Linked DNA regions of Homo sapiens: regions 1, 2, 3, 4 and 6 are each reported to be linked to region 5. The links are microRNA targets in miRTarBase. Many come from high-throughput screens and were not tested one by one. Region 5 holds a microRNA gene; each other region holds the end of a gene's coding sequence.

Region 1 (5,000 bases), not on the chromosome of region 5:
TGCAGTGGCTCATGCCTGTAATCCCAGCACTTTGGGAGGCCGAGGCGGGTGGATCACTTGAGGTCAGGAGTTCAAGACCAGCCCGGCCAACATGGGTGAAACCCTGTCTCTACTAAAAAAATACAAAAATTAGCCAGGCGTCGTGGTGGGTGCCTGTAATCCCAGGTACTCTGGAGGCTGAGGTGGGAGAACTGTGTGAACCTGGGAGGCGGAGGTAGCAGTGAGCCGAGATTGCGCCACTGCACTCCAGCCTGGGCAACAGAGCAAGACTCTATCTCCAAAAAAAAAAAAAAAGATGCGGCTGCTGTGGGTACCCCAGGATTCCTGGTTATGCCCCAATCCATCCTACCACTGTCCCTTCTTCTCCCTGCAGGGTGCCGACCCCCACATCCTGGCAAAAGAGCGAGAGAGCGCCCTGTCGCTGGCCAGCACAGGCGGCTACACAGACATTGTGGGGCTGCTGCTGGAGCGTGACGTGGACATCAACATCTATGATTGGGTGAGGGACTGCCCATCCCCAGGACCTCTCAGCCTCCTGGCCTTCATTCCTGCCTCAAATGTTCACAGAGTACTTGAAAGGTGCAGGCCTGCTCTAGGTGCCGAGAACACGAGACAGCCCCATTCCCAGCCTCACAGAGCAGAGCTCCCCATGCAGGGAAGGCAGACATGGAAACAGGCAGCTGAGATGCAGTGAACTGCGCTGCGATGGCAGATGCACAGGTGGCTACAAGAGCCCCATGTGGGCAAGGGAAATCAGAGAGGTCTTCCTGGAGGAAGGTGTCTAAGCTTGAGACCCCAGAAAGTGAGATGGGCCCAGTGATGAGCAGGAGGAACCACGTTCAACTGGAGGCCAGAGAGTACAAGGCATTTTGAGAATGAGGAAGAGGTAAACCTTTGGTTTCTCCTGCCCCTACCCACGACAGAATGGAGGGACGCCACTGCTGTACGCTGTGCGCGGGAACCACGTGAAATGCGTTGAGGCCTTGCTGGGTGAGTGGGAGTCGGGAGTGGCCCTGGGGGCCCCAGCACTCCAGCGGGCCCTGCGGGAATCCTGAGGGCAGGGAGACGCCCAAGTGTTGCTTGAAGAGTTCTTGGAGCAGGTAGTCCCTGCCTGCTCTTCTCGGAGGATGGATCAGAGGGGAGGAGGTGGTAGGACCACACGGGAGTCGGGGTCTGGGTTTAGGATCTGGCCAAGAGGCTAAGCACCTCCATCCTCCATGGTTCAGAGACCCTTCAGCCACGTTCTTCAGTGGAGACCAAGATAGCAGAGGTTGGACCCTTGTCAAAGGCCACATGGGCAACGGGCAGACCCACGGCTGCATTGTGGGGAATGAGGGGTGCCATGGGATCTCCCAGGTCCCCAGACCCCATTCTGGACTCCCAGGCCCCACCCTCCAGCGCCCTCCCCTCTCCTTTGCAGCCCGAGGCGCTGACCTCACCACCGAAGCCGACTCTGGCTACACCCCGATGGACCTTGCCGTGGCCCTGGGATACCGGAAAGGTCAGCCTGAGACACACAGAGCAGGGGTGGGGTCCCTTCCATAGGCAGGGTGACCATAAAGGGGTACATGGGACACCCCTTCAGTGGTCATACGCCGGCAGCGAGAGTGTGTTGACAGGTGTTGAGCACTGCTGTGTATCCCGCCTGGGAACATCCCAGTCCTGGCTCCTGGGGCTCCACATGTGCTGGGGTAGGGAGGACAATGGGTGTCAGTGGCTGTGGCCATGATGGGGGACACATAGGCATGAGAGGCCGAAAGAGGGGCCTCTCATCAAAGAGCCCCAAAGTGGCCAACAGAAGTCAGAGAGGCTTCCTGGAGGAAGGTGTCTTAAGGTTGAGACCCCGAGAAGTGAGGTGGGCCCAGCCCTGGGATGGGGAGGTCAGGGAAGGATTCTGGGGGACCTGAAGGGAGGGAGAATGGCATCCAGGTGGGAGGAGTGGCCCCTGCGGAGGCCTGGCAGTGAGGACACCAAGGGGTAGGCGACCAGGCCATAGTGCACAGAGCCACAGAGGCCATCCCTCTCCGTGGCGGGCAGTGGGTTTGAACAGGGGCCATAGGCAGACCCCAGTTTGACTCCATTTTCTCTGTCACAATGGGACCCCAACTTCCCCATCCATAAAATGGGGAGATCCCAATTGAACCGACCCCCTGGGGTCATGGTAGAGATGGGGTGCTTAGGAAATATCCCCCTCCTTCCTTCAGAGTTTTACTGTGTTTGGGACAGAAATCATTCCTCTTCCCTCCTCATGTTTTCGGGGGGTTTGTTTTTTTGTTCGAGGCAGAAAGTCTTGCTCTATCACCCAGGCTGGAATGAAGTGGTGCAGGCACAGCTTACTGCAGCCTCGATCTCCCAGGCTCAAGTGATCCTCCCACCACAGCCTCCCGAGTAGCTGGGACCACAGGCATTCGTCACCATGCCTGGCTAATTTTTTGTTGTTGCTTTTTTTTTTTTTTTTTTTGGACATGGAGTCTCGCGCTGTCACCCAGGCTGGAGTGCAATGGCGCCATCTCGGCTCACTGCAACTTCCACCTCCCAGGTTCAAGCGATTCTCCTGCCTCAGCCTCCTGAGTAGCTGGGACCACAGGTGCACACCATGACGCCCGGCTAATTTTTATATTTTTAGTAGAGACGGGGTTTCACCATGTTGGTCAGGCTGGTCTTGAACTCCTGACCTTGTGATCCGCCTGTGTTGGCCTCCCAAAGTGCTGGGATTACAGGTGTGAGCCACCACGCCTGGCTGTGTTGTTGTTTTTTTAGAAGAGACAGGGTCTCGCTATGTTGCCCAGGCTGGTCTCAAACTCCTGGGCTCAAGTGATCCTTCTTCCCCAGCCTCCTGAGTAGCTGGGACTACAGGCATGTACCACTCTACCCAGCTAATTTTTAAAATCTTTTTTATTTATTTTTTGAGACAGAGTCTCGCTCTGTCACCCAGGCTGGAGTGCAGTGGCACAATCTCGGCTCACTGCAACCTCTGCCTCCCAGGCAAACAATTCTCCTGCCTCAGCCTCCTGAATAGCTGGGATTACAAGTGCCTGCCACCACACCTGGCTAATTTTTTTTTTTTTTTTTTTTTTTTTTTGAGATGGAGTTTCGCTCTTGTTGCCCAGGCTGGAGTGCTATGGCGTGATCTCGGCTCACTGCAACTTCCGCCTCCCAGGTTCAAGCAATTCTCCTGCCTCAGCCTCCCAAGTAGCTGGGATTACAGGCATGCACCACCATGCCCAACTAATTTTTTGCATTTTTAGTAGAGTCAGGGTTTCTCCATGTTGGTCAGGTGATCTCAAACTCCCGACCTCAGGTGATCCACCCGCCTCAGCTTCCCAAAGTGCTGGGATTACAGGCATGAGCCACCACACCCGGCTGCACCTGGCTAATTTTTGTAGTTTTAGTAGAGATGGGGTTTCATCATGTTGGTCAGGCTGGCCTTTCCTGACTTCAAGTGATCCACCTACCTTGGCCTCCCAAAGTGCTAGGATTACAGGTGTGAGCCACCAAGCCCAGCCTAATTTTTAAATTTTTTTGGTAGAGACAGCGTTTTGCTCTGTTGCCCAAGCTGGCCTCAAATTCCTGAGCTCAAGCAGTCCTCCCCACTGGACCTCCCAAAGTGCTGGGATTATAGGTGTGAGCCACCATGCCCAGGCTCATCTTTTCATGAAAGTCACAATTCACACATTTTGCTTGGTAGGAAATATTTTTATATTAATTCTGAAAAGCTACAAAAGTGCATTTTTACAAACTTAGGGGAAGTTGAGGTTCCTGGGGTGAGTCCTCGGTTCTCCCAGCTTTGCTCTGTAATGCAGGTCTCTGCAAGGGTCCCTGTTTGTCCCCTAAGGGGAGAGCGCAGGTTGGCCTGTGCCTCCACCCCACTCCCGATTCAAGCTCACAGCCCACCTTTTCCCTGCCCCATCTCAGTGCAACAGGTGATCGAGAACCACATCCTCAAGCTCTTCCAGAGCAACCTGGTGCCCGCTGACCCTGAGTGAAGGCCGCCTGCCGGGGACTCAGACACTCAGGGAACAAAATGGTCAGCCAGAGCTGGGGAAACCCAGAACTGACTTCAAAGGCAGCTTCTGGACAGGTGGTGGGAGGGGACCCTTCCCAAGAGGAACCAATAAACCTTCTGTGCAGAATGAGGGACTTTGCTGTGCTTCCCGGAGGGCTTCCTGGAGGAGACAGCCCCTAGAGGTCTCACACCTTCTCCCCAAGCACCCGCAGGTGGTAGATGACCACACGGCCAAAAAAGTCAGTGGCATCCTCAAACGTCACCTTCAGCCGGTCCACTTCAGCAGCTGGTATGGGGAAAGTGTGAGCGTGGGCAGTCAAGGGAAACTGGTGATTTCTGGTTTCCCACCCGCAGGCCCCCACCCCTTCCAGACCCAGCTCACACTCCACCGATGTGGGCAACCTGGGGAAGCTGCAGGTCCCTCTAAGCCTCTCACACAGAACAGGTGGTCATCAGCACCATTTTACAGAAAAAGTGGAGTCCTAGAGGTCACGTGTTCAAGATCACACATCAGGGTTCCCATTCGGGTTTGGGTGAGTCCAAAGCTTCCAGAGGCACAGACCACCCACCCCAGAAGCAGGGGCAGGATATCTGAAGCGAGTTGTTGTCCTCAGGGTAGAAATCTACAATCTTGTGGAGAGCCTGAGTGCCCTGTGAACCTTCAGCAGAGAAAGGCAATGAGTGTCTGGGGTGACCCCTGGAACCCCTGCCACCCAGGGCCTTCTAGTACCTTCCAGGCAGCCCCGGCGACTGGAGAAGCCACCCTGAAACTGGATCTGCAGCTGGGAGACACGGATGAGCTGGGGAAACTCCAGCGTCACCCACTGGGAGGGGCCCTGGAAGCAGACAGGGAAACTGAGGCGCAAGCTCACTGCAGGCACAGAGCCCTGCTATGCCTGTCTCATTCACATAGTTCTTGGAATGGAGGGGAAGAAGGAAATTCGGCACATGTTCCTTTCCTGGCCACCCATGAGGGCCCCCTGACGTTCTCAAG
Region 2 (5,085 bases), not on the chromosome of region 5:
ACCTTTAGTACTTGTGAACAGCGGAAAAAGAAACTTACCTTGGCACACAATATTCTAGGGTATTTTTTAGTACTGATATTATAAATAGGAATGGGAGAGAAAAACTTGGAGAAAAAAAATAACACTTGCATTGTCAGTATCTCCAGAGTGTAATTAGTTCTAGATAGCCAATTGGAGAGTATGAAAGAATAGTGTGTAGTATATAATATTTTAGGAAATGGCTCTGAATTTGTGCAGTTTTGATTTTTTAAAAATCATTTAGTAAGCCAGATTGGGTGTGATTTTTAATACTGAGTTTTGTCTTTTATTGTTTTTAGATTTATTGAAGTCATAATGTCATAGAAGTGATTTACCTTGTAAATATTTGACATACATTTATGTCCAAAAGGATTTACCAATTTTTAATTTTATAGCTATTTGAAACTTTATATTGGATGCTTCTATAATAGCAGAAATGTATGCAGTAGGAGCAAAAAGTGTGTTTTGATTCTCTACACATTGACTTGTTTAAATCTAAAGTAGAATTTTCTTGTAGGTATGGCGATTTAGTACTGCATTTTGTTCTGTTAATGAATGGAAATTTGCTGACATCCTAAGCATGGCAGACCACTTGAAGAAATGCAGTTACAATGTTGTCGAGAAACGGGAGGAAGCAATCCCTTTGCCATGTATGTGTGTGACACGAGAACTCACTAAAGAAGGACGTTCACTACGCTCAGTTTTAAAACCTGTACTTTAAAAGTTGTAATATTACTAGCACATATATGCAAGCACCTAGTATAATTTCTTTGTAATATGTGAAACTTTATTAATGTATTAAATATTACAACTAGCTAAATTTATTGTCACTGTGTATATAATGTTTTGAAGTGACATCTATTTTTATAAAGTACTGTTTAGTTGGAAAAAGTTGCCTTAATGTTTGAAATGTGTGAAATTTTTGGAACTTGCTGGACAGGGTGATTTAATTTTTAGCTACATAATTTTAAGAATTAGTATTTTCAGTGGTGTGCATATTTTGGTTCTTAAATTTTTGCTTCTTAAACTAAAAAAATCCTGACCAATTTATTTGTTGTTTTCTGTGGGTTGCGACCCATGCAATCAAAAAGCAAAATTTTGATTGAGATTTTTTACAGCATAGGTTTTTCATATAAAAATATTCTGAATTTGTTAAGCACTGCCATAATATCATTATAATGTTTTTGTCTTTTAGTGCTTCCCTATACAATTGTTAATGCACAAATGATCTCTAATATATACTTACATACGTAAAATCATAAAGTTTGGTAATGCAGTTTATCGTTTTAAAAATAATCCACAAAGATGTTTTTATCTCACATACTTACAACTCAACACACAGAGTGACCATGTGCAGCTTTCTTTTTTGTTAGATGCCACATCCGAAGACTCATCGCAGTGTGTTATATGACAGGACAAAGCAAAAACAAACAAAAAGCAAGCCTGTGAATATAATTTAATTTGAAACTGCTCCTGGTATTATATATTTGCTAGTTATCTAATGTTTTAAAAGAAAATATACCTCATTTAGGTTTGAATTGGGCGTATTGTGTAAATTTCAAATATTCAGAATGCAAAGGGCTTGACTATTAAATGTTTGCCTTTGATGTTTATAAACATTACAACTATGTTGTTTTAAGACATTTAAAAACGTGAAATTTGTTATCTTTGTAAAATGACAATCATGTAGAAACCTGTCTTGGTTGACAATCTCTTTGAAACATTTCCGAGTTAATTTCCCATAGGCTTCACCACCAAGAAAGTAAGAATTGCATCTTTACATAATGATCAAGGTATAATGGAAAAATATACCTATTCTTGAAGTAGTTTATTATAGTTTTCAAATTGATTTATACCATTATTAACCTGATGTGGTCTGCTTAAAAAATGAATATATCAGTATTTAGAAATAAATTGCAAAGGTGGGAATATATACTTAAATAATTTGTCTTAAGTAAATTAGCATTTGGTAGTCTGAAATGGTGACAGATTACTTGTTAAAATTGTGAAAACTCTGTTGTGTCCTCTCTTCCTACATTTGTCCCTGAGAGTACTCCACGATTACTAGGTTCTTGATTCCCTTATATGGCAATCAGGCAGAGGCGTTCCTTAAGCATTAGAGAGTTCTGAAGCTTAAGATTTGTTTTGGTTGGATGAAGTCCTTAGTACAGTTGAAAAACAGAGCATTAAAGACTAATCAATTGTTTTGCCTCACCAGTCATTTTAAATAGTAGAATACTTATTTCTCAGTGCTTAAAATTTCTTTTTCAACTGTGAGATTGAATAAACAGTCTCTATTTCTGTGGAAAAAACAACAGAAAAGAGATATTAAATACCATAAAATGTAACTCTGCCTTTTAAAGTTTTGCTGAAGAATGTGTCTGTGGTTAGGATAGCACAAGCATTAACTTTTGTTTTATAGTTATGCTTTTTAAAATTCATTGTTTTTAAATTTAGACTTCTTATTTCCACACTGGATTATGAGATACTTAACAATTTTTCCACCTTATATTTCTTTTACACATTTTGCTGTTCTCTTTTTTGTTATTGTTATGCCACCATACCATTTTGTTAAAATGTTTTCTTTGTGAAACATTTGTTCAAGTTCTAATAAAATTAATGTTTTCCCTTAACATGGCTCAATAACTTAAAAACGTTCATTTAAATAAAATTTTAATACTTGTTTGACAAATTCCAACACAATCATATTGTTTCTGTAATGTGGATTTTCTGCATGTTATGGTAGTTGTTGATTATCATCATTACTCACCCATGTTTTACTAGTGAACCTTAATTTTTTTAAAATTTGAGACACGCATTAGTTAGCTTTCTCTGATCCTTCAGTGTCTCGAAAGTAATACCACCTAGGTGCACTGAAAGGCGGAAGAGTTTCTAGCATGGTTATAGCTCTAAAAGTTGTCATGGAAACCATCTCTCTCTCCTCTTAAGTATGAAAAGGTTTTTATGTTGGCCTAATAGATTGTACTTTGAGAAGTCATCATTGATTCCTTAGTCTTTGCTAAATAGCAAGGTAAAAGGCAAGCATCGGGATGGAGGGAAGTATTTGAATTCACTTTTGTCCTCTGCCTCCTTCCTCAATACTGCCTGTTAGCTTAATCTTTCTCCCTCTCCCTTTCCCTTCTCCCTCTCTCACTCTTTTTTCTAGATTTTGAGACTCACAGATCTTACAGCAGTGGTTCCTAAAGTGTGGTCCTTGGACCAGCAGGAACATCAACACCTAGGAATTTGTTAGAAATGCAGATTATTAGGCTTCTCTCCAGACTTAGTGAATCAGGAACTCTGGGGTGGGACCCAACAATCTGTTTTAACAAGATCTCTAGGTGATTCTAACGCACAGTAAAGTATTAGAACTTAGAGGGAAGACTGGGTCATGCCAGCTACCCTCTGGTGCATTACTGGAGTGGATATATGTGTGTACCTGTGTGTGTTTGTATAAATATATGTGTAATCCAAAAGTCAGTAATGGTAATTTATTAATGGTTAAACTATATATGTTGTCTCAATTTTACAGCCATATGACAAAATACACTGGGTACTGTAGTTGTTGGACTTGTATTCTTTAAATTAGTATTTACTAGTATTTAAAATTTTACTAAAATTTTACTAGTGTTTCTTCTGTTCAAGGTAAATTGCAGTGCAAATTTTAGTTCATTAGCAGTAACATTTAGCCTAGTCATCTCATTCTCTTGTTTAGTGGTTGTAGAGTCGTGAACATATTCAAATTGTAGGGTAATCAAAGAGTAGAAGTAGACAAATATTGGATTAAATCCTACAAAAAATATTTTTAGGGATCTTTTCAACCCTATCAATAAGATGTTATGAAAGATTGGATCTCTTGTTTACAAGTAGTATAGAATCTTTTTTGATCTTTGACTCTGTGCTGCCTATCTCATCAATGTTGTTGCTATTAATATCTGTCCTTTAACACTGGATGTTGGGATCTTAGTAATGTTGCTGATAATAGGATTTTCAGCAAAACTTCCATATCCCTTGAAGATATGGTAGTTTATATTACTATATCGATAACAGTTTTGCCTGTGGAGATTTGACTAGTTTTAGGTGTTTGGAAGCAAAACAGATTTCTTCATGTTTTGCATCCCAACCTGAAAAGACATGGGGTTTATTAATTTTAAAATTTCCTAAGGAAAAGTTATTCAAATATTTTAAAATGTGTTTGTTTCATGCATGACATGCCACATTGGTGATGTGATTGGAGCTTGCAGAGTTGGTTGTTTAGAAGTGCAGTAGAGAGAAAGCAATTGGCCCTCATTCTCTGGACAGACTTTTGATGGAAAGAATTTCTCTGATAGGTGTTTGACTGGTTATCTAAACGTTGCTGTTAAGTAGTCTTACTTAAGATGCTCATAAGGTCTAGGAAGCAGAGAATATTAGTTATACCTTTATCAACTCATCAGTGACTTGTTTGATGGTGTTTAAGATAATTTAATAATGGGGTTTGACAGGATTTGTCTGATTTCCAAAAAAGCAAAGTTCGAATTCAGAAAAGATCAACTCTAATGAAGTCCTTTCTAAATAAGGGAAAAGGAAAGATGGTTTGCTTTTGAAGTCATCTTTTACATAATTATTTCCCTTTATTTAAAAGATTAAAGTGAGATCAAGAGATAAAACCTTTCAAATTTGAATTTTATGGATGAGAAAATAGGTACTCAAAATTTAGGCAGTGATTAGTGTACTGGGATATTTGAGAGAGAATTATGTCCTTACATAGATCACTTTTTCACTTTACGAATGCAGGAAGAAAAGAGATGTTTAGATGTAAGGAAATTTGGAAAATGTTGCCTAGGATATTTGATTCCTACTGCTTTGGAAAGCATTTTGGAGCAATACCAAAAGGAAACTAACTAACCAAGTGTGATATGTTGCTCTGAAAATCTTTGCGAAATGAGGGCCTCTTGCTGAATTTTACAAGTAGGTTATTGCATCTATGATTAAACTTTTTTAAATAAATTGCTTATACATGTTTATTTGACATATATAATCTTCATAATTGGCCAGTACACCTTGAGATGTATTAATGGCGATACA
Region 3 (5,084 bases), not on the chromosome of region 5:
CCAGTAGCTACCTCCGCTACCCCCATGTTTGTACCTAACTCTGTCTCTTCTAACCTCTGCAGAAATTCATGTAGCTTCAGAAATCCATTAGAGACCCCGCCAGAAAGCTGTATAGTGTGCTACAACCCTTCTGAAACTCAGTGTCTAGGTATTCATTCAATACATAATTGAGCATCTACTCTGCCAGTGCAGGATACAAACATGACCCCTCCTTCCAGAGCCTCTAGTCTGCTGCGAGGCCTTCACCTCAAACCAGCATGAACAAATATATTGTCTCAAACACTGCAAAGTGCCATGAAGCAAGCAACAGGATAGGCTTAGCGTAGACAGCCAGGGGGCTGAGACAGAGAGGGAACTTGTTAGTGAAAAGCCAGAGGAGATGCTTCATTCCAGACAGAAGGAGCTGTCCCAGGAAGGGCAGAAAAGAGCTTGGAAAAGCCCTAGAGCCGAAGTAGAGTGACACAGGAGGATGGAGGGAAATTAAGTTGATGAGGGGAAACGCCACGACACAAGGAGACTGAGTCTCACCCCGGGTGCAATGGGGAGCAACAGATGGTTCTGGAGAGCAGGCAGTGACGCTGCCATCCAGGAACACCAACGAGGAGCCAGTCACCAAGTCCAGGCAAGCGAAGAGGATGGCTCTGCATGGGGGTCGGGGTGGGTGAAGCAGACAGGTACCGGAGCTCCATTTAGAAGGTGGAAGTGAAAGGTGGCGATGTGGAAGCGCATCTGGTTTTAACAGCTTCTTTACAGGGAGGGACAAGAGGTGGCGTTTGGGCTGCAAAAAGTGTAACGCGTGACTGTTTCACTGACAATCCTATTCCTTTTCCAAGTCCAATTCTATAACCCCCATTTCTCTAGATGCCTCTATACAGCTTTCAGGCCTAGAGCTCTGTGAGGAGTGGGATACTGCAGTAAAAGAATACCTAGGCAATGGTGTTCTCTGAATGTATGTAAAACTGTAAAACGCTTATGAACTCTCTGGCTAGGCACAGGCAGTGGATGAGCTGGTCTAAAAGTGCTTTTGTCAGAAAAAGACCGGCCCCCCTCACAAAGATGTCATCACTCGGTAAAATTCCCCAAGACACGTTATTGGATTCTAAATCACAACTAATTCAAAAAAGTGAAACGGGCCACACTTCCCATAGAAATAATTCCTGACCTCCACTTTTCATTAAGATGCAGCAAGCAGAGATTTATTTCCCAAGACATGAAAATAATTGAGGCATCAGAGAAGAAAAGCATTTAAATGGCATTCCCTTGAAATATTCAATTCACATCAGCTCCCTGGACTCAACAGTTTATGAAATCAGCAAATTCATCTCTACAGACACTCTATGACGTAAATGAGGACAGTGTCCACATGTACTACAAAACTCCAGATGGGGAAAGGCCTTACTTTAAATTCTTGACTATCTATCTCGAAACATAAGAATTTCTTCCCTCTCTAAATGGAAACCATGTTCTGAGACACTAGGTGATTAAGCGGGAACCCATTTATTCAGTTATTCCTTTCCCTATTCTGGTATAATTTTTAGTTTAGACCAAGTGACTAAAAATATAACTAAAGATGTATCCCATGTTCAGAGAAAACTATTTTCCTATCCACTAAGGGCAAACGGGGAGATCTAGACTTGGACACAAATACCTCTGCCTGTCTCCCCACTTTCCCCACCCCTACCCCCAGCCGTCCAGTGTGGGAACAGGAAAGACAGCAAGGCACCTGCCTGGGCTTCCCAGCTGTTTAACATCTGGACTGCTTTTTGGTATCTAATATAAAGAAAGCCACGATGAAAGACAAGTCATTGTTCCAAAGTTGTTTTTTATTTTATATTTGTTGAAAGAAATAAAATTATATTTAAAAAAAATAGAGAAATCTCACAAACTGATGAAAGCCAGGAACAAAAAGAACAAGTTAGTACTTTTTCCTGAGAGGCAGATCTAACAGCTGCAGAATGGACTTCTTCCTTCCCAGCTTTTGTGAAACAAAACAATTCTCCTAAGGCATCAGAAAGCACTGAGTGCAAAATGGGTTGTTCAGGTACAAGGTCTCAAGCCCTCTAATGGGGACTGGGAAACGTGAAAAGCTGCTACAATTTCCTCTCCTTTAATACCAAATGTTAAACTGTCTATACTTCTACTTTTTATGTAAATTTGAGAATTTCACACTCATGACCTGCATTTCGGACCTGGTCGTGTTTGATTAAAATCTTACTACTTAGTGATCTGCACTGGCATCCCAACAACTGATTGCAGGGGCCAGCAGCAGGAAGAGCTGCTCTGATCTCACCATCCGCAGCCAAAACCAGCCAAAGAGCACCCATCCCAGGAGACTCAGATGCAGCTAGAAATTTATGCTAAAGCCTAACTCCTAACTATGCTGGACCTGCCCACAAGGGCAGATCACATCCTAGTGGTTCACAGGTCACACACAGAACAAAAGTTACAAAAGTCACCTCACAATTCCCGAAGCTCTAAATTGATTCATTCCCCACACGTGGTTTCCCTAATTTTATACTGATAAATCTATCAAATTAAAAGCTTTCATTTCCAACCACTTCAATAAGATAGACAACACCATGCTTAACATTTTTGTTCTCTGCCTAATTGCTTGCTTCTGCTAAACTTTGCATTTCCATGGCTAATAGGAAAGCTTGAACCCATTTTTCCAAAAGTTCCAATCTTGTGTTCTGATTTGAAATACTGAGTACACACCCCTGATGCTTTCTCTAAAGTTTCTTTTTCAAGATACTTAAGTCAATTCATATAACTGGTATAAATTCCATGGGAGCATCGAATTCCCAAGAGATTTAAATGTCTGTAGCGCCTACCATAGGTGCTTGCTTATACATTCAAGTGACCTAATGCATCTCCAATTAAGTTAATTATGTAACACCAATCAGCTGCTAAGGAGCCAGTAGGATCCTGTGGGTGTGTCCTGGCTAGTTTTTCAAAACATCTCTCATCCTTCATGGGTAGATTCATACTCCAAGGTAAGCTGGTGTTGGACCCTAGAAACCCCTATCCTGTCTCCTGGCTCTATAGGGAGTTAACAGCCCTCCTGGGACAGCTTCTCCTGGGCTCCAGTTTTACATTCAGAAGGACCTCACGACTCTTAAGAATGGCTTTGCTGAGTTGCTGGACACCATGATGTCTTCTCCTGCCCAGAAACGGCACGGTCAGCAATCTTCCACCAACCGGAGGGTGCAACTTGAGTTTTATTCTGGCTACATCATCCCAAGTCCTAGTATGAAACAGCAATGTGGCCAAAAATGACCATGTTCAAATAAGATACCTGATAACACAAACTTTTAAATCAGTTATGACTCAGTCTCTCATCTCCAGCCCAGGCACACAAAAAATACACAAATTTGAGCTAGAACTGTGCTAAGAAAAAAAGAGAAAGAAAAGAAAGCAAAAGAGAGAAGAAAAAACGTTGACAAAGACAATCTAAACTACCAACACTGACGTAAGCCAGACTCTAGAGTCCCTACTTTAGCGACTGCCATTTTTTAGTCTCAACAAAAATGTCAATATCCTGAGTTTTATCAGCATTTTCTGAAATAATTTATGGGACACAAAAGCATATAAATGAATAAACAGAAGCAGTGGTACAAAGTCTGGAAAGCCCACTAACCAGAAAAAGAAATGTCACAACAACAATATCAAAAGATGTATTTAAGAGAAATAAATTAAAGGTTAAAACCTTACACTTTCAAGTTTTCTTAGACAATTATTTTGGGAGATGGCATGGAGTTGATACATTTCTCTAATAATCACTTGGTTAAGATCAAATACCAAAATGAGCCTTCAGAAGAAAATTTTGACTTTAAAAGTAACAGCCCCATGGCAGCTATTTTGAACACAAGAGAAACTACCTTCTGAATTAATATTCCAAACCCTCATCAGTAGCTTGTGTCATCAAACTGTTAAGATATTTTGTTTACTAACTTGGTTGTCAAAATTGTATCCAAAAAAACACTAGCATCTGCAGAAACTAAAATTTTGGTACACAAGTTTCTCTACACCACTGAGTTGGGTTTTTAGAATAAAACAATGCCAATCTAAGCCCAAAGGTATCTCAAAAACATAATTCCTATGCTTTAGTTTTATTTTTGTGTTTAATCTATTTGCTTCCTAAATGTTATTTGTATTTTTTAAGTCAATTGGCCACACACTACCTATAAGATGTGATGAAGTTTCTTTACTTAACCTGACATTGCTACTCAAAAACTTGTACTTTTGGGGGAAAACAGTACTAATTATGTTAAAACAAAGTTTATGCCATATATAAAATCACTCCAAATTACACACTCATTGCTTTCTATAGCTCTACGAATTTATAATACATAATTTAGAAGAAAATCACAAATAGATTACCATAGGTGGCATTCAACTTTTCTTAATCCAATTCAGCCTATCCATTAAAACCAAGAACCTTCTGCGCGGCCTGCCAGTTCCCCATTCCTTTTGTCAACTTAAAAAAGAAGCATTTCTTGGGAAGTCAGGATTTATTAAGAACATCGGGATCCCAGATATTTCTTTTTTTACCATATACCTTAACATTTGGGGGATTTTGATTCCCACAAAAACCTCTATCATTTAAAACCAGATATTCGAATTACAAGGCTAACATTTTTAGCTAATCAACTCTTCAGTGCTGATCCCAGAAAATAGCCTCCAATGGGTCTTTGAGTCATGGAAATGGACAACTTTCAGCCATTGACATGAGTGGTGTCGGTGGTCACACCTTTAACATTCAAGCCACAAGCTCTAAAGTCTGGAAAGGGTGAGGTCTACTGTCCTGCATTGTCGCCATCTGCTGTCGTATTTTCAGTGCTAATGGACTGTACGTTGTCTGCAAGGTTGTGTGCATGCTCAAGAAACAAATCTTTGAGTACACTTAATTCCTTGGTCAGCAATTTGATTTTTGCTTCCAACCGTTCATTCTCTTCTTTGAGCTGATTGACTCTCTGCAGTGTGTCTTGTGCTTTCTGCTTGCTTTTCAACCGGCTCTTTTTCACAGCCATGTTGTTCCTCTCTCGGCGTTGCCGATACTCGTCACTGTTTCGATCCATGGGCGA
Region 4 (5,090 bases), not on the chromosome of region 5:
GCTGAATGCATGGCGTCTTCATTATAAAAGCCCAGTTTTTGCAATATGGGTCATGTTCATTCTTTTTAATTTCATTGAACTTTTCGATGCATGTATATATTTTGCCATGTTTGAGTATCTTGGAAACTTGCTTCTGAAGTTAATGTGGTAAATCCTACCTAGTTTATAACTGCATATAATAGTGATTCAAGTTAACATGTATTGTACCTTTAATATGTGCTGGGCATAATAAGTGTATTATGCGTCATTATTTTGTCATTAATTTCTAAAATAATCTTGTTAGGTGGTCACTGAGACTAAAGGATATTTGGTCACTTGCCCAAAGTCATATAGCTAGTTGGTAAAGCCAGAGCTTTGACTCACAACCAAGGCTGTTTGACATCCTATCTCAAACTCCTAACCAGTATGACTATTGTCTCTATTTTTTAGACTAGACTGACCTCTGTGTATAAAATTTAGGGATAAGCATTTAATGACAACTTGAATGTACTTAAATATAAAACTTGTATACATAATTTTTTATTTATATGGAGCACTAGAAATGTAAACTATACTGACTTTATGGTATGGTTGTGATATAGACCAATCATTTGCATTTTCTGTGTGTAGGAATCCATTAGAGGACACACTGGTTAAAAATTAAACATAAAAGGTAAATAAAAATAAATTTTATGTTCATATATTTAAGTTGTTTAAAACTATAATGCAATTCATTTTTTAAAAAATTTTACAGAAATTGCATCGATGTAATCAGAATGAAGACCGCATGCCATCCCAAGATTATGTCCTCACTTATAACTATGAGGGAAGAGGATCTCCAGCTGGTTCTGTGGGCTGCTGCAGTGAAAAGCAGGAAGAAGATGGCCTTGACTTTTTAAATAATTTGGAACCCAAATTTATTACATTAGCAGAAGCATGCACAAAGAGATAATGTCACAGTGCTACAATTAGGTCTTTGTCAGACATTCTGGAGGTTTCCAAAAATAATATTGTAAAGTTCAATTTCAACATGTATGTATATGATGATTTTTTTCTCAATTTTGAATTATGCTACTCACCAATTTATATTTTTAAAGCAAGTTGTTGCTTATCTTTTCCAAAAAGTGAAAAATGTTAAAACAGACAACTGGTAAATCTCAAACTCCAGCACTGGAATTAAGGTCTCTAAAGCATCTGCTCTTTTTTTTTTTTACGGATATTTTAGTAATAAATATGCTGGATAAATATTAGTCCAACAATAGCTAAGTTATGCTAATATCACATTATTATGTATTCACTTTAAGTGATAGTTTAAAAAATAAACAAGAAATATTGAGTATCACTATGTGAAGAAAGTTTTGGAAAAGAAACAATGAAGACTGAATTAAATTAAAAATGTTGCAGCTCATAAAGAATTGGGACTCACCCCTACTGCACTACCAAATTCATTTGACTTTGGAGGCAAAATGTGTTGAAGTGCCCTATGAAGTAGCAATTTTCTATAGGAATATAGTTGGAAATAAATGTGTGTGTGTATATTATTATTAATCAATGCAATATTTAAAATGAAATGAGAACAAAGAGGAAAATGGTAAAAACTTGAAATGAGGCTGGGGTATAGTTTGTCCTACAATAGAAAAAAGAGAGAGCTTCCTAGGCCTGGGCTCTTAAATGCTGCATTATAACTGAGTCTATGAGGAAATAGTTCCTGTCCAATTTGTGTAATTTGTTTAAAATTGTAAATAAATTAAACTTTTCTGGTTTCTGTGGGAAGGAAATAGGGAATCCAATGGAACAGTAGCTTTGCTTTGCAGTCTGTTTCAAGATTTCTGCATCCACAAGTTAGTAGCAAACTGGGGAATACTCGCTGCAGCTGGGGTTCCCTGCTTTTTGGTAGCAAGGGTCCAGAGATGAGGTGTTTTTTTCGGGGAGCTAATAACAAAAACATTTTAAAACTTACCTTTACTGAAGTTAAATCCTCTATTGCTGTTTCTATTCTCTCTTATAGTGACCAACATCTTTTTAATTTAGATCCAAATAACCATGTCCTCCTAGAGTTTAGAGGCTAGAGGGAGCTGAGGGGAGGATCTTACTGAAAGCACCCTGGGGAGATTGATTGTCCTTAAACCTAAGCCCCACAAACTTGACACCTGATCAGGTCTGGGAGCTACAAAATTTCATTTTTCTCCTCACTGCCCTTCTTCTGAGTGGCATTGGCCTGAATCAAGGAAAGCCAGGCCTTGTGGGCCCCCTTCTTTCGGCTTTCTGCTAAAGCAACACCTCCAGCAGAGATTCCCTTAAGTGACTCCAGGTTTTCCACCATCCTTCAGCGTGAATTAATTTTTAATCAGTTTGCTTTCTCCAGAGAAATTTTAAAATAATAGAAGAAATAGAAATTTTGAATGTATAAAAGAAAAAGATCAAGTTGTCATTTTAGAACAGAGGGAACTTTGGGAGAAAGCAGCCCAAGTAGGTTATTTGTACAGTCAGAGGGCAACAGGAAGATGCAGGCCTTCAAGGGCAAGGAGAGGCCACAAGGAATATGGGTGGGAGTAAAAGCAACATCGTCTGCTTCATACTTTTTCCTAGGCTTGGCACTGCCTTTTCCTTTCTCAGGCCAATGGCAACTGCCATTTGAGTCCGGTGAGGGATCAGCCAACCTCTTCTCTATGGCTCACCTTATTTGGAGTGAGAAATCAAGGAGACAGAGCTGACTGCATGATGAGTCTGAAGGCATTTGCAGGATGAGCCTGAACTGGTTGTGCAGAACAAACAAGGCATTCATGGGAATTGTTGTATTCCTTCTGCAGCCCTCCTTCTGGGCACTAAGAAGGTCTATGAATTAAATGCCTATCTAAAATTCTGATTTATTCCTACATTTTCTGTTTTCTAATTTGACCCTAAAATCTATGTGTTTTAGACTTAGACTTTTTATTGCCCCCCCCCCCCCCTTTTTTTTTTGAGACGGAGTCTCGCTCTGACGCACAGGCTGGAGTGCAGTGGCTCCGATCTCTGCTCACTGAAAGCTCCGCCTCCCGGGTTCACGCCATTCTCCTGCCTCAGCCTCCTGAGTAGCTGGGACTACAGGCGCCCACCACCACGCCCGGCTAATTTTTTGTATTTTTAATAGAGACGGGGTTTCACTGTGTTAGCCAGGATGGTCTCGATCTCCTGACCTCGTGATCCGCCTGCCTCGGCCTCCCAAAGTGCTGGGATTACAGGCATGACCCACCGCTCCCGGCCTTGTTTTCCGTTTAAAGTCGTCTTCTTTTAATGTAATCATTTTGAACATGTGTGAAAGTTGATCATACGAATTGGATCAATCTTGAAATACTCAACCAAAAGACAGTCGAGAAGCCAGGGGGAGAAAGAACTCAGGGCACAAAATATTGGTCTGAGAATGGAATTCTCTGTAAGCCTAGTTGCTGAAATTTCCTGCTGTATCCAGAAGCCAGTTTTATCTAACGGCTACTGAAACACCCACTGTGTTTTGCTCACTCCCTCACTCACCGATCAAAACCTGCTACCTCCCCAAGACTTTACTAGTGCCGATAAACTTTCTCAAAGAGCAACCAGTATCACTTCCCTGTTTATAAAACCTCTAACCATCTCTTTGTTCTTTGAACATGCTGAAAACCACCTGGTCTGCATGTATGCCCGAATTTGTAATTCTTTTCTCTCAAATGAAAATTTAATTTTAGGGATTCATTTCTATATTTTCACATATGTAGTATTATTATTTCCTTATATGTGTAAGGTGAAATTTATGGTATTTGAGTGTGCAAGAAAATATATTTTTAAAGCTTTCATTTTTCCCCCAGTGAATGATTTAGAATTTTTTATGTAAATATACAGAATGTTTTTTCTTACTTTTATAAGGAAGCAGCTGTCTAAAATGCAGTGGGGTTTGTTTTGCAATGTTTTAAACAGAGTTTTAGTATTGCTATTAAAAGAAGTTACTTTGCTTTTAAAGAAACTTGGCTGCTTAAAATAAGCAAAAATTGGATGCGTAAAGTAATATTTACAGATGTGGGGAGATGTAATAAAACAATATTAACTTGGTTTCTTGTTTTTGCTGTATTTAGAGATTAAATAATTCTAAGATGATCACTTTGCAAAATTATGCTTATGGCTGGCATGGAAATAGAAATAATTATGTCTTTGTTGTATTAATGGGGAATATTTTGGACAATGTTTCATTATCAAATTGTCGACATCATTAATATATATTGTAATGTTGGGAAGAGATCACTATTTTGAAGCACAGCTTTACAGATGAGTATCTATGATACATATGTATAATAAATTTTGATTGGGTATTAAAAGTATTAGAAGGTGGTTATAATTGCAGAGTATTCCATGAATAGTACACTGACACAGGGGTTTTACTTTGAGGACCAGTGTAGTCAAGGGAAAACATGAGTTAAAAAGAAAAGCAGGCGATATTGCAGTCTTGATTCTGCCACTTACAGGATAGATAACGCCTGAACTTTAATGACAAGATGATCCAACCATAAAGGTGCTCTGTGCTTCACAGTGAATCTTTTCCCCATGCAGGAGTGTGCTCCCCTACAAACGTTAAGACTGATCATTTCAAAAATCTATTAGCTATATCAAAAGCCTTACATTTTAATATAGGTTGAACCAAAATTTCAATTCCAGTAACTTCTATTGTAACCATTATTTTTGTGTATGTCTTCAAGAATGTTCATTGGATTTTTGTTTGTAATAGTAAAATACCGGATACATTTCACGTGTCCTTCAGTATTGATTTGGTTGAATATTGGGTCATAATGGTTGAGAAGCATGGACACTAGAGCCAGAATGCTTGGATATGAATCCTGGATCTGTCACTTACTTCTGTGTGACCTTTGAAAGGCTACTTATTTCCTCTCTTAGCTTTCTCATTAAAATCAATGAACAATGCCAGCCTCATGGGGTTGTTGAATGATTAAATGAGTTACTATACCTAAAGTACATAGAACACTGCCTGCACATAGTAAAAGAATTATAAGTGTGAGGTAGTTGGTAAAATTATGTAGTTGGATATACTACCGAACAATATCTCATCTCTTTTTAGGGAAATAAAGTTTGTGCATATATATAATCCC
Region 5 (5,090 bases):
TGACTGGCCCATCCCTGAGGCAAGGATCCTAGCACCTACCAGGCCTCTCCCCAGACCAACACTCAGCAGCTCTGGGAGGAAGTGGAGAGCCCCAGAGTCTGGTGAACTCCGCAGGACGTGAGGGAACAGCTCAGGGGAGAACCAGTTCCTTCCATGGCCCCAGGAGGTGGGAGACAAGCCCTCCCCATTCTGCAGGTGAGAAAGCAAGGCTCTGACAGGGACAGCAGCTTGTATAGGGAATACAGCACAGGCAGGTGGCAGGGGCAGAAATAAAACCCTTGTGGGTTGAAGGCGCAGGTTCTTCCACCCCATGGGAGTCCCACCATGGCTGGCTAGGAGGCTGAGATACCCACAAGGTACCAAGGAAAAGCCTGAAGTGGCAGCAGAGCCTGTCGATGGGGCTGGGGGAAGGAGGAGGAGGAGTGGGAGAGGGAGACAGGTGTCTCAGAAGACAGAACCACAGAGTGCCTTAGTGCTTGGGGACTAGGCCTACTGACCCGGCTTTGCCACTTACTAGCTACATGACCCTGGCATAGGACTTAGTCTCTCTGAGCCTCAGTTTCTTCATTCAAAAAAATGTAAATGGCACCATCACAGGGCTGTTGTATCATATGAGAAGGTACTGCATGTGGGCCATGCATACTCTCTGCCTACGACCTATGGGGCTGGGCTGCCCACCCGGCTCGCAGTGGCACACCTGCACGACACCGAGCAGTGAGGAGTCCTTGTTGAGATGGGCCGCAAGCAGCCCTCCGGTCCTGATGAACTCCCTCAGGCTGAGCCTCATCTCACCCAGCCCTGGCTTTCCTCCTTCCCAGGACACTGGGCCTGAGGAAGACCCTGCCCTGTCCCTGCACAAGGCCTTGATCCTTGCCTACACTGTTTTCTGGCTGTTGTGTGCTTCAAGGGGATGTGGAAAAGGATCCCTCTCCTCAAAACCTGGCACTTCTAAGCTGTGCATGCTGCAGAAGCACCTGTGGGCATGGAGGCAGCAGGCCTATGTCTGGATTCTGCCCTCCGAGGGCCATCAGGCTGCATGGCGTTGTCTTCTAGGCTCACTTTCCTACCACAGAGCTGCTACCAAGGAACCCCAGTCCAAAGGGTGGCTGCAAGCCTCTCATTCCCCAAACTGAGCCTGTACTGTTTGGTTCTCTCATGAAGACAAATACGGAAGAGACTAATGGAAAGCCCAAAAGAGAAGGTGAAATGTGGCTCACCATCTGCCTTTGGTCTTGGCAGCCCAGGGCATTTGGGCACCCCCACCAGCTTTTTTTTAAAGATGGAGTCTCGCTCTGTTGCCCAGGCTGGAGTGCAGTGGTGCAATCTCGACTCACTGCAACCTCTACCTCCTGGGTTCAAGTGATTCTTCTGCCTCAGCCTCCTGAGTAGCTGGGATTACAGATACATGCCACCACACCTGGCTTATTTTTGTATTTTTAGTACAAACGGGGTTTCACCATGTTGGTCAGGCTGGTCTCGAACTCCTGACCTCAGGTGATCTGCCCACCTCAGCTTCCCAAAGTGCTGGGATTACAGGTGTGAGCCACCGCGTCCAGCCAGTTTGGGCCTTTTCTGCACATTGCCTGTCCCTGTAGGGGCTGCCACGCTGTCCTGGGTTCATCCCAGTGCCCAGGTCCACTGACAATATCTAGCTTGAAGTACTAGCCTAGCCAGCTAAGACCAAGCCCCAGGGAGTGGCTGAGAATCTGAATCTCCAGGACTCTCCCGGTCCCTCCCACTCTGGAGCTAAGGACATGTTCCCCGTAGACCAGGTGATGCTCCACTTTCAGCTGGGTGCCCTCCTGTTTCCTGGGATGGCTGTGACTTGGGCCCCAACAGTGGCAGCAGTGCCCTCTATCAGGATCCCCTCCCCCACCTGATAGGGCCTTCAGTCAGGGCAGTCTCTCGAGGGCCAGGCAGGCCTCTGTGATGCACTGTGGAAACATTGCATGGGTACCACCAGAACATGCAATGCAACTACAATGCACCACAGCTGCCCGCCAGGAGGTATGCGGCCAGCCAAGGAGGTGCCCAGGGTGGTCTTCAGCTCTGTTTGTGTGCCCGAGGGGGCAGGAACCCACTCCAAGGCTGCCTGCAGAGGCCTGGGAAGTCACGCAAACCGCTGGAGCAAATGCAGGTGAACCCCTGGCCAGCTGGGGTGCACCTGGGCTTACAGAGGCTATGGGCCAGCAGGACCTGGGACTCTGGGAGCCTAAGAAAGGTGCAGGTAGAAACACACTTGCCTCAGAGGCTGAAAAGGGATGAAAAAGGAGTCCACCTAGGCCAATAAGCCGTAACTTTTTTGAAAGGGGGCTGCTGTCCTGGTTTCTCTGTCTTTCGGATGGCCCCACCCGCAGGGTCAGCATGAGGTGAGTGGGAGTGTTCTCGTAAACCAGTGCAGAGCACCTCCCCCAGGGGCCAACTCAGCTCCCACTCACGTGGTTGAGGGCAGGGTCAGAGGTGGCCCCACTGACGTTGAGGCTGCTCCATAGGTGGCCACTGGCCCTCTCGCAATGGCAGAAGGAACTCTGCTGCCCATCTGCTTTCCCAGGGAGTGAGGCATGCATGGCTCTGCAGGCATGGAAGATGGCCTTCACCAGGGGGCTCCTGCAGCAGTGACAGGGAGTCGAGAGGCAGGTCACTATGTGTCACCTGCGTGACAGGCAGAGGGGCCCAAGCCAGTGACTGCCACGCCCCACACTGATATGACATGTGCATCTGTTGACTCCAATGCTGCCACTATGGCACCATGCCACCAGCTCCAGATCTGAAATGCCAGCCCTGAGCTAGGGTTAGCGCCCCACCCTTTAGCACCTTCATTCAATGCTGGAAGTCAGAGACACAGGCTTCACCATCACGTCTGCTGCTAAGAAGCCACCCAAGATAGTCATTCCAACGTGTGCCTCAGTTTCCTTACCTATAAAGTGGCCACAATAAGGTGTTGTACCCGTTCTTTAAGGGACCACCCCCCCAGAGATGTGGTATTAAACTCTCTGGAGATACTTAGTTAGCTTCTTTCTGTAGAGGAGACTGGGAGTGGAAGGGGAGGCTAGGGATGGGGGAGGGTTCTCATAGCATCCTAGTCCCTGAAAAGCAGAGGGACCCAGGGGTAAGTGAATCCAGCAGGCAGCAGTGCCTGCAGGGGTGTCTTGGCTGTCCATGGAAGCTCTGCTGCTCTGGAGCGAGGTGACTTTGGACAACTTACCTGCTGAGTCTCAGTGTCCTCAGGCACATCGACTGGGGGAGACACACATACAGGTGGAATGCTATACCGGGCTGGGTGCTTACCTAGTCAGAGTGCTTACAAATGGGGCTACTTCAATGAAATTAGGGTGTCACATCTACTTCAGGGAACAAAGGACTTCAAGCCTGTGTATACTCACTCTTCTCAGCTCCTTCCTGTGCGCCGGTTAAGGGTCTGCTTGATAGGAAATGCTACAGCCTTGGCTCTAAGGATAGGACCTCGTGGGGCCTTTCTGTCTTGGAGCATTTTACAGTTTCTCTTAGAATACTCAGATCCAATTAGAAACAGCCGGGGAGTCAGCAGGCAGGGCTGCCCATCACTAGTGCCGAATGCCCCCAAGACGCAGACATGAATCTCCAAAGAGGAATGTCAAAAGCTCTCCGGTTATGCCATGTGCTAAAGGCTATTTTAGTTACAGGACAAAGTTGCCAGGGTTGATGGTGGGGGTGGAGGTGGCTGGAAGGAAAGTGGATAAAATGCTAGCACACAGGGGCAAGATGCTCCAGTGCACATGAGTTTTGGGGGCAACAGTGGCCTCTCTGCACTGATTGTGAACCACCAGTGCCTGCCTCCACCACAAAGCTTCTGAAGATGCTGGGGGCCACACTGCTCTCGTCTCTTCTTTTCAGCCTGTGGCGCCATGAAGGCTGCAGGGAGGAGGACCCGGACACAGTGCTGACAGCTGCTGGGACAACTGTCGTGTTGTGCAGAGCAGGACACTTGCACAGAGGACCTGCTGGCCCAACTTGAGTTCTCCATGGTGCCCTCACCCCCGACTTTTCTAGCCGCCCACCTGTCATGCAGTCCTGACCCTTCACCCCAACACGCCCACCCAGTCCAGTTTGCTCCTGCTAACTCAAACAAGATTCCCCTGGAGAGAAGCAAGTGAGTGGCCAAGGAGGGTTACGCACTCTGTCACTTCCAGGGCCTTGGGGATGCGTTCCACTTTGGTAAAATGAGAGCGCACAGCTGCATCGTCTCCCTGGAGCCAGCTGATGGCCACAGTGATTGCAGACGTCCACCACCGACAGATGATGTCTGGACCTAGAGGAGAACAGCACCAAACGCACTCCAGCACCCACAGAAACGAGACCTGTGGCGCTCAGAGGCTGCTACACTTCCTTCCTAGGAGATGGGTAACATCTTTGCCTGCTGGGAACGGGCCAGCAGCCTCTGGGCTCCCACACCCAGGATTCTGGGGGAGGGGAATAGACCAGCACAATCTTGGAAAGTGTTTGGCAATATATATCAAGAGCCTTAAAAATGTTCATTCCTGGTTGGCCGCGGTGGCTCACGCCTGTAATCCCAGCATTTTGGGAGGCTGAGGCAGGTGGATCACCTGAGGTCAGGAGTTTGAGACCAGCCTGGCCAACATGGTGAAACCCCCTCTCTACTAAAAATACACAAAAAAATTAGCTGGGCATGGTGGCGGGTGACTGTAATCCCAGCTACTAGGGAGGCTGAGGCAAGAGAATCGCTTGAACCTCGGTGCGGGCGGAGGTTGCAGTGAGCCGAGATCGTGCCATTGCACTCCAGCCTGGGCAACAAGAGTAAGACTCCGTCTCAAAAAAAATAAAAAAGTTCACTCCCGTTAAGCTAGTAATCCCATTTTTGGCAGTCTGTCATAATGAAACTGGCTTAGAGAGAAAAAAGTTTAACACATATTTGACTGCAGTGTTGTTTTTAAATAAAAAGATGGATACAACCTAAGCTTTCAATAGCCATAAAGAATGGTATCTTCAAAGTATCTGGAACAGGCTCCTGTTAGAATATTTTAAGTCTTCTCCTCTCTCAGCCTTAGTTTTCTCAACTGCAAAATGATGACAGTAGTGATCCCACAAAACCA
Region 6 (5,090 bases), not on the chromosome of region 5:
CACAGACCCAGGAAGCTCAGAGAACACCAAAAATAAATACCACCCTCACCAAAAAAAATCTACACCTATGCATTTCATATTCAATCTGTAGAAAGGCAAAGACAACGAGAAATTTTTGAAAGAAGTCAGAGAAAAAACATATTACCTATAGAAGAAAAGAATAAAATTATGGCAGACTTCTTGTGAGAAACTAGGTAAGCCAGAAGAAAGTGGAGTGAAATATTTAAAATGTTGAAAGAAAAAAGCCAGCCAACCTGCCCTGCAAGAAATGGGAAGTTCTTCAGGCAAAATGAAAATGATGTTGGTTAGAAGCTTGAACTACATAAGAAGAGCATCAGAGAATAAATAAGTGAAGATGAACAAAATCTTTACTTGTTCTTAATTGATCTGTAAGGTAATTGCTTGTTCAAAGTAATAAATGTAATAATGTGTTGAGTGATTATACCATATGGATAAGTCAAATGAATGACATCAATGTTCTAAGGGCAGAAATGAGAAATTGGGAATGTGTTGTTATAAAATGCCTACACTACACTTGAAGGCAGGCTTGTATTTGGAAAAAAGTTTATATTGTAAACTCTAGGGCAACCATTTAAAAATTCGTAAAAAGAATAACTGGTATGATAAGAGATAAAATAGAATCATAAATTGTTCAAAACTAAAGGAAGACAGAAAAAGGAAGGGATGAAGAGAGGACAAATGCAACAAACAGAAAAGAGTTACAAACATGATAGATATTCATTCAGTTATATCAACTATCACTTTAAATGTGAAAGGTCATTTAATTTCCTTCTGACTTGTACTGTAAACTAGGAGATGGATAAGTATTTTAAGGTGCTGATAAGCAGAATACCAAGTCAACAGCTTTGATTTGTTCAAATTGTTTCTTGACTACAGGGAGAAAAAAAAATAAAGGATGTCAATATCTAGTGATCCAAGCAACATATTGTTTTCTAGTAAATTCAGAAATCTGGTTGACTTTTTGTATATTGGTGGTCAAATTAAGGTTGGCATGCATTTCCATTGTATGAGGTATTATGAGATATTTATCACATTGATCAAAATTTGGCATGTGCTTGGGATACAAATAAAACATATAGCAATTAGGAAATCAGTCAAATTTTCCTCTCACACCTTATGGTGTAAATTTCTTGCTCCTCAGTCCATGGTGAGAGTATGCTTTACCACCATAGGCATAGGTTTCTCTCACTGCAGACTCTTACTGAAGAGTTTATGAAAGCTCACAGTATTGATGGGGGAGGGGGGAAACTTGGCTTCCAATAGGACTTTTACCAGTTACCAGTTGCATGCCCTTGGGCAAGTTATTTAATATATCTGAGTCACTTTGGTTGGTCTATCTGTAAAATGGCAATAATAATTACACTTTGTGGATGTGTGAGGGTTAACTAATACATGTAAAATGTCTAACTTAAGTGAGCCAAAAAAAAAAAAAAAAAGACATTGAGAAAGCACATGTCCTTATACAGGCAATCCTTACCAAGTGTACAATGATACTCTAGAATACAATGAGCTTTCTCCTTGTCCTTCCTGGGATTTGCACACTAGAGACCCAGAAGATATGTCAATTCATGAATCAGTGTAGTCAGCCATGAAGAACAATCAGCAGTGGATTTCTTGATACATATGTGGCATGTAAACTCATAACAAATTTTTATATAATGATTTCTAGTTTTTTAGGGAAAAAATCCTATTTTTAGCAAGTGCCAATATATCATTTCCACTTACTCAATTTACTTTCCCTTCAATATGGCAGCAGCTGATAGTCAAAGTTAGTGAAAGGCTATAACAGTTAAATAAAGACCTATCCAAGGGTTTGGCTCTATTTGCCTAAAGAGGCCACCACATTTCCCCTGTCTGATACACAAGTTTAAAGCCCCACACAGGAAAAGTTTTACTGGTTCTAATTTCCTTTTTTTTTTTTTTCGGAGATAGAGTTTCACTCTTTTGCTGGGGCTGGAGTGCAGTGGCACGGTCATGGCTCACTGCAGCCTCTGTCTCCCGGCCTCAAGCGCTCCTCCCACCTGTCTCCTGAGAGGCTGGGACCACAGGCATGTATCACCGTGCCAGGTTAATTTTTGTATTTTTTGTAGAAACTGGGTTTCATATTGATCAGGCTGGTCTTAATCTCCTGGGTTCAAGTGATCAGCCCACCTCGGCTTCCCAAAGTGCCGGAATTACAGGCGTGAGCCACCACACCTGGCCTCTGGTTTTACATTTCTAGCCTCCTTAACACATCCTTTATCAAAGACACATCTCCACTGTTGACATTTTCCTTTAGTCACCACATCAGAAATAATAATAACCTTTTATTCTTTTTAAATAGTTATTTTCCATTACCACTGGTTTATCATAGTACTATTACTCTATTTCTCACTTTGGATTTACTTTTCCTTTCCATCTACACTGGAGAAGCTATATTACTGCCAGATATAGGAAAAAAAACAATTTGGTTGAGAATTAGAGAATTCAAAATGTTAGTAAACATTGTTCTAAAGTTTGAATTTAACTTACATGTGACTCTTTTTATATATTAAAAAACTCTCTAGAATTTACTAAAGATTAGAATATATTTTAAGGAATCCCAAGGAAAAAAATCCAGATAATTATTAAAAGTCCCATGTCAAGCAGAAACACTCCATGAAGAAATTCTGAAACTGATTTTCTATCTTGCTTTAATGGCTCCATTTATGACTTCTGTGAAGAATGTGAACACAGTAGAAATAACAGCCATTTATTTTAAGTATCAGTTTTTATTAAAAAGTGCATTTTGATTAATTTATGATCTAGGTAAGCTGTAAGATACCAGTATACTCTCTGGAATAATAACTTTACAAAGATTTAAAACAAACAAAATTTTAAAAGCCTTTTTATTTCCTTCACCATTATTGTTTTACAATACAAATATCACCTTGTGAATACACAAAAAAATCCTACGGAAGATAATTCTGCTGCACGTAAAATACAGAATGGATATATATACTTCTTCATTCTTAAAAAACTATTTTGTTCTCCACATTGGCAAGTATAGAATAGAATACTTCCCCAAACATATGTATGTTAGGAGTAAAACTTAGAGTTACATGCAGTTTCTGCACAAATATCTTTTAAAGAAATAGATCTCTTTTTTGTTGTTCACCAACAAAATTGTCATGAGAGTATGGATAACTAATTCATAGCTTTCAAGTTTTAGGTAAGTGATCATTTTCAAAACTCTCTTTAAGAAAAGATATTCATGGCTGTTTTCATTGAGTAGTTAAAATTGAACTACCAAATCGACGATAAAATAATTTAAGTGGTACATGTCATTGCTACCTGATCACAATATGTGAACAGGCTCTGACTCTAATTAACAACCTCATTATTTAAGTCATTGCAATTTTAAAACCATAAGCAGTCTTCTGATTCAATTTAGCTATAAATGCAAAATTTAGTAGTGTATACATATATTTATATTTTCAAGGAATACTTTATTTTAAATAAAAACATTTAAGATTGCCTACTGACCATACAATCAAGACAAGAAAGGCACTAGAAACATAGACAAATTTCTCTCCCAAGATGCATTTTTAAATTTTAACTCTCTTCTCTCTGACATGTTAAAAATCTTTAAATTTGGTGTTCATAACATCATTTTGAAAAATAAAGTTAGGAAATACTTAGAAAATCACTTTATAACAGAATCTTTTTTTTTGCACTTTTTGAAACACTGCCTTTGCTGATTTTACAAAACCCAAAGTTACCAAACCTTTCTGTGTCTATCATTTTTATTTGAATATCGGTGCAACAGGTAGAAAGATTTCAGAATCAAACCCCATTCAGGTACTTAGAAACCTTCATAGAGACATTTGCTAGAAAATGGCTTACAGCCCAATCTTTGGGGCAAGAGATATGAAAAGTATGTTTTCCCAAGAAAATAATACGCTTTATTTCCAGATGTGACTGGAAAGACCAGAACTTATGATATAAAAGCTTACATTTATGCTGCTGCATCATATACAAAGGAACATGGTGGTTGCGGGTTATGTAAATCCCAAACTTATGAACAGGAAATGTGTACAGTGCATGATAGGTTAAATTTTTCTTTATTGTTGTCCAACGCAGGTCCTTTGGAGAGAAAAAAAGATCACAGTGCTGACCAGGTAACTCAATAGGTTAAGTCAAGGTAACCATTGAAAGATAATAGGATTAGGGAGGTGTTTATTTTATGGCATCTTCTCTCATGGAGTTCTTAGCACTTCGGACAATTTGTCTTTTCCCCACTTTGTACAGCTGTTATGTGTCATTCACCAGCCGGCTGTATTTAACTTGCCTACTGAGGTGGACTACTGGCCAGGGGAAAGGCCAATGGTAAGATCGAGGTACAATTCCTTGGACATTCTTTTCAAAGTACTGAAATGGCCTGTACCACCACACCCTGGCCAGGAGGTTCATCTGGGAAGCTTCCTTTAGCACCTAGGATAACAAAGAAACATAAACACATTTCTTACAATCTTTCACTTTAAGTTCAAATACTTGCCACGCTAAAATTCCCAAAGGACTCCATACCTGCCCTGCGTGTCCACCCACATATCCCAGCTTCTCTCTCTCATCACCATTCTACACTCCACATTCATCTACAAACTGAGCCACATCCCAGTAGAAAAACAACGCCAATTCTGGGAGGGCAAGGAGAACTTATGGCTCACTCATCTCTTGCTTATAAATAAACACCTCAGTTAGCTTTTTAGGTATTCCTCTTCTATGCTAAAAATGTTAACACTTAATTAAATGTTAAATATTAAGCTTGTGATGTGCCCCGGGTAGGGAGAAGAGGATAGGAAAGCAAATCAAGCAAGGAGGGACACAAGCTTAGAAAATATTTTTCATTTTTCAAGGACAATGAAAGTGCGTTCCTTATTCTAGAAGGAAGTAATTCCTCACATCATTATATTAATAAACTTTTTATTCTTAATTCTGAAGAGAATCAATGTCACAAAAAAACAATACAATCTTAGTTGATTACTACTTAAGAAAGAGAAACTTCAGACATCCACAGGTTCTTTGCACCCTGTCCAAGCCAGCAACATCAA

The links. The annotated mature microRNA hsa-miR-33a-5p reads GUGCAUUGUAGUUGCAUUGCA and lies in region 5 at 1,968-1,988, opposite strand. An mRNA with a match to its seed (bases 2 to 7 or 8) in the 3' UTR can be bound and repressed. Matches are read on the target gene's strand: a 7mer-m8 pairs with bases 2 to 8, a 7mer-A1 pairs with bases 2 to 7 and ends in A, and an 8mer does both.
Region 1: miRTarBase lists NR2C2AP as a target of hsa-miR-33a-5p. The part of its 3' UTR that is shown has no 7-base or 8-base seed match.
Region 2: miRTarBase lists FBXO30 as a target of hsa-miR-33a-5p. Seed matches in the 3' UTR shown: 7mer-A1 at 1,589-1,595.
Region 3: miRTarBase lists CEBPG as a target of hsa-miR-33a-5p. Seed matches in the 3' UTR shown: 7mer-A1 at 2,628-2,634.
Region 4: miRTarBase lists DSC3 as a target of hsa-miR-33a-5p. Seed matches in the 3' UTR shown: 8mer at 1,529-1,536.
Region 6: the mRNA of SGMS1 is a reported target of hsa-miR-33a-5p. The part of its 3' UTR that is shown has no 7-base or 8-base seed match.

The regions. Positions count from the first base shown.
Region 1 is chr19:19,197,734-19,202,733 of GRCh38, forward strand. It overlaps NR2C2AP (nuclear receptor 2C2 associated protein), which reads right to left. Exons shown (of 5, transcript NM_176880.6): 3 at 4,737-4,842; 4 at 4,598-4,665; 5 at 3,676-4,308. The coding sequence ends at 4,192. It overlaps RFXANK (regulatory factor X associated ankyrin containing protein), which reads left to right. Exons shown (of 10, transcript NM_003721.4): 7 at 374-499; 8 at 924-990; 9 at 1,421-1,501; 10 at 3,916-4,133. The coding sequence ends at 3,986. Among named protein-coding and RNA genes, the nearest start is that of NR2C2AP, 3.2 kb to the right of the region's middle. RefSeq lists a silencer at 4,657-4,923.
Region 2 is chr6:145,795,760-145,800,844 of GRCh38, reverse strand. It overlaps FBXO30 (F-box protein 30), which reads left to right. Exons shown (of 3, transcript NM_032145.5): 3 at 536-5,085. The coding sequence ends at 739. All of the region lies in intron 1 of EPM2A-DT (EPM2A divergent transcript), which reads right to left. Among named protein-coding and RNA genes, the nearest start is that of FBXO30, 16 kb to the left of the region's middle.
Region 3 is chr19:33,379,405-33,384,488 of GRCh38, reverse strand. CEBPG (CCAAT enhancer binding protein gamma) reads right to left here. Exons shown (of 2, transcript NM_001806.4): 2 at 1,803-5,084. The coding sequence ends at 4,797. Among named protein-coding and RNA genes, the nearest start is that of CEBPG, 8.2 kb to the right of the region's middle.
Region 4 is chr18:30,990,016-30,995,105 of GRCh38, reverse strand. DSC3 (desmocollin 3) reads left to right here. Exons shown (of 16, transcript NM_001941.5): 16 at 734-5,090. The coding sequence ends at 931. Among named protein-coding and RNA genes, the nearest start is that of DSC3, 50 kb to the left of the region's middle.
Region 5 is chr22:41,897,847-41,902,936 of GRCh38, reverse strand. It overlaps MIR33A (microRNA 33a), which reads right to left and starts at 1,993; the gene lies at 1,925-1,993. It overlaps SREBF2 (sterol regulatory element binding transcription factor 2), which reads right to left. Exons shown (of 19, transcript NM_004599.4): 15 at 4,156-4,288; 16 at 2,439-2,607.
Region 6 is chr10:50,302,849-50,307,938 of GRCh38, forward strand. It overlaps SGMS1 (sphingomyelin synthase 1), which reads right to left. Exons shown (of 11, transcript NM_147156.4): 11 at 2,752-4,473. The coding sequence ends at 4,294. Among named protein-coding and RNA genes, the nearest start is that of ASAH2, 54 kb to the left of the region's middle.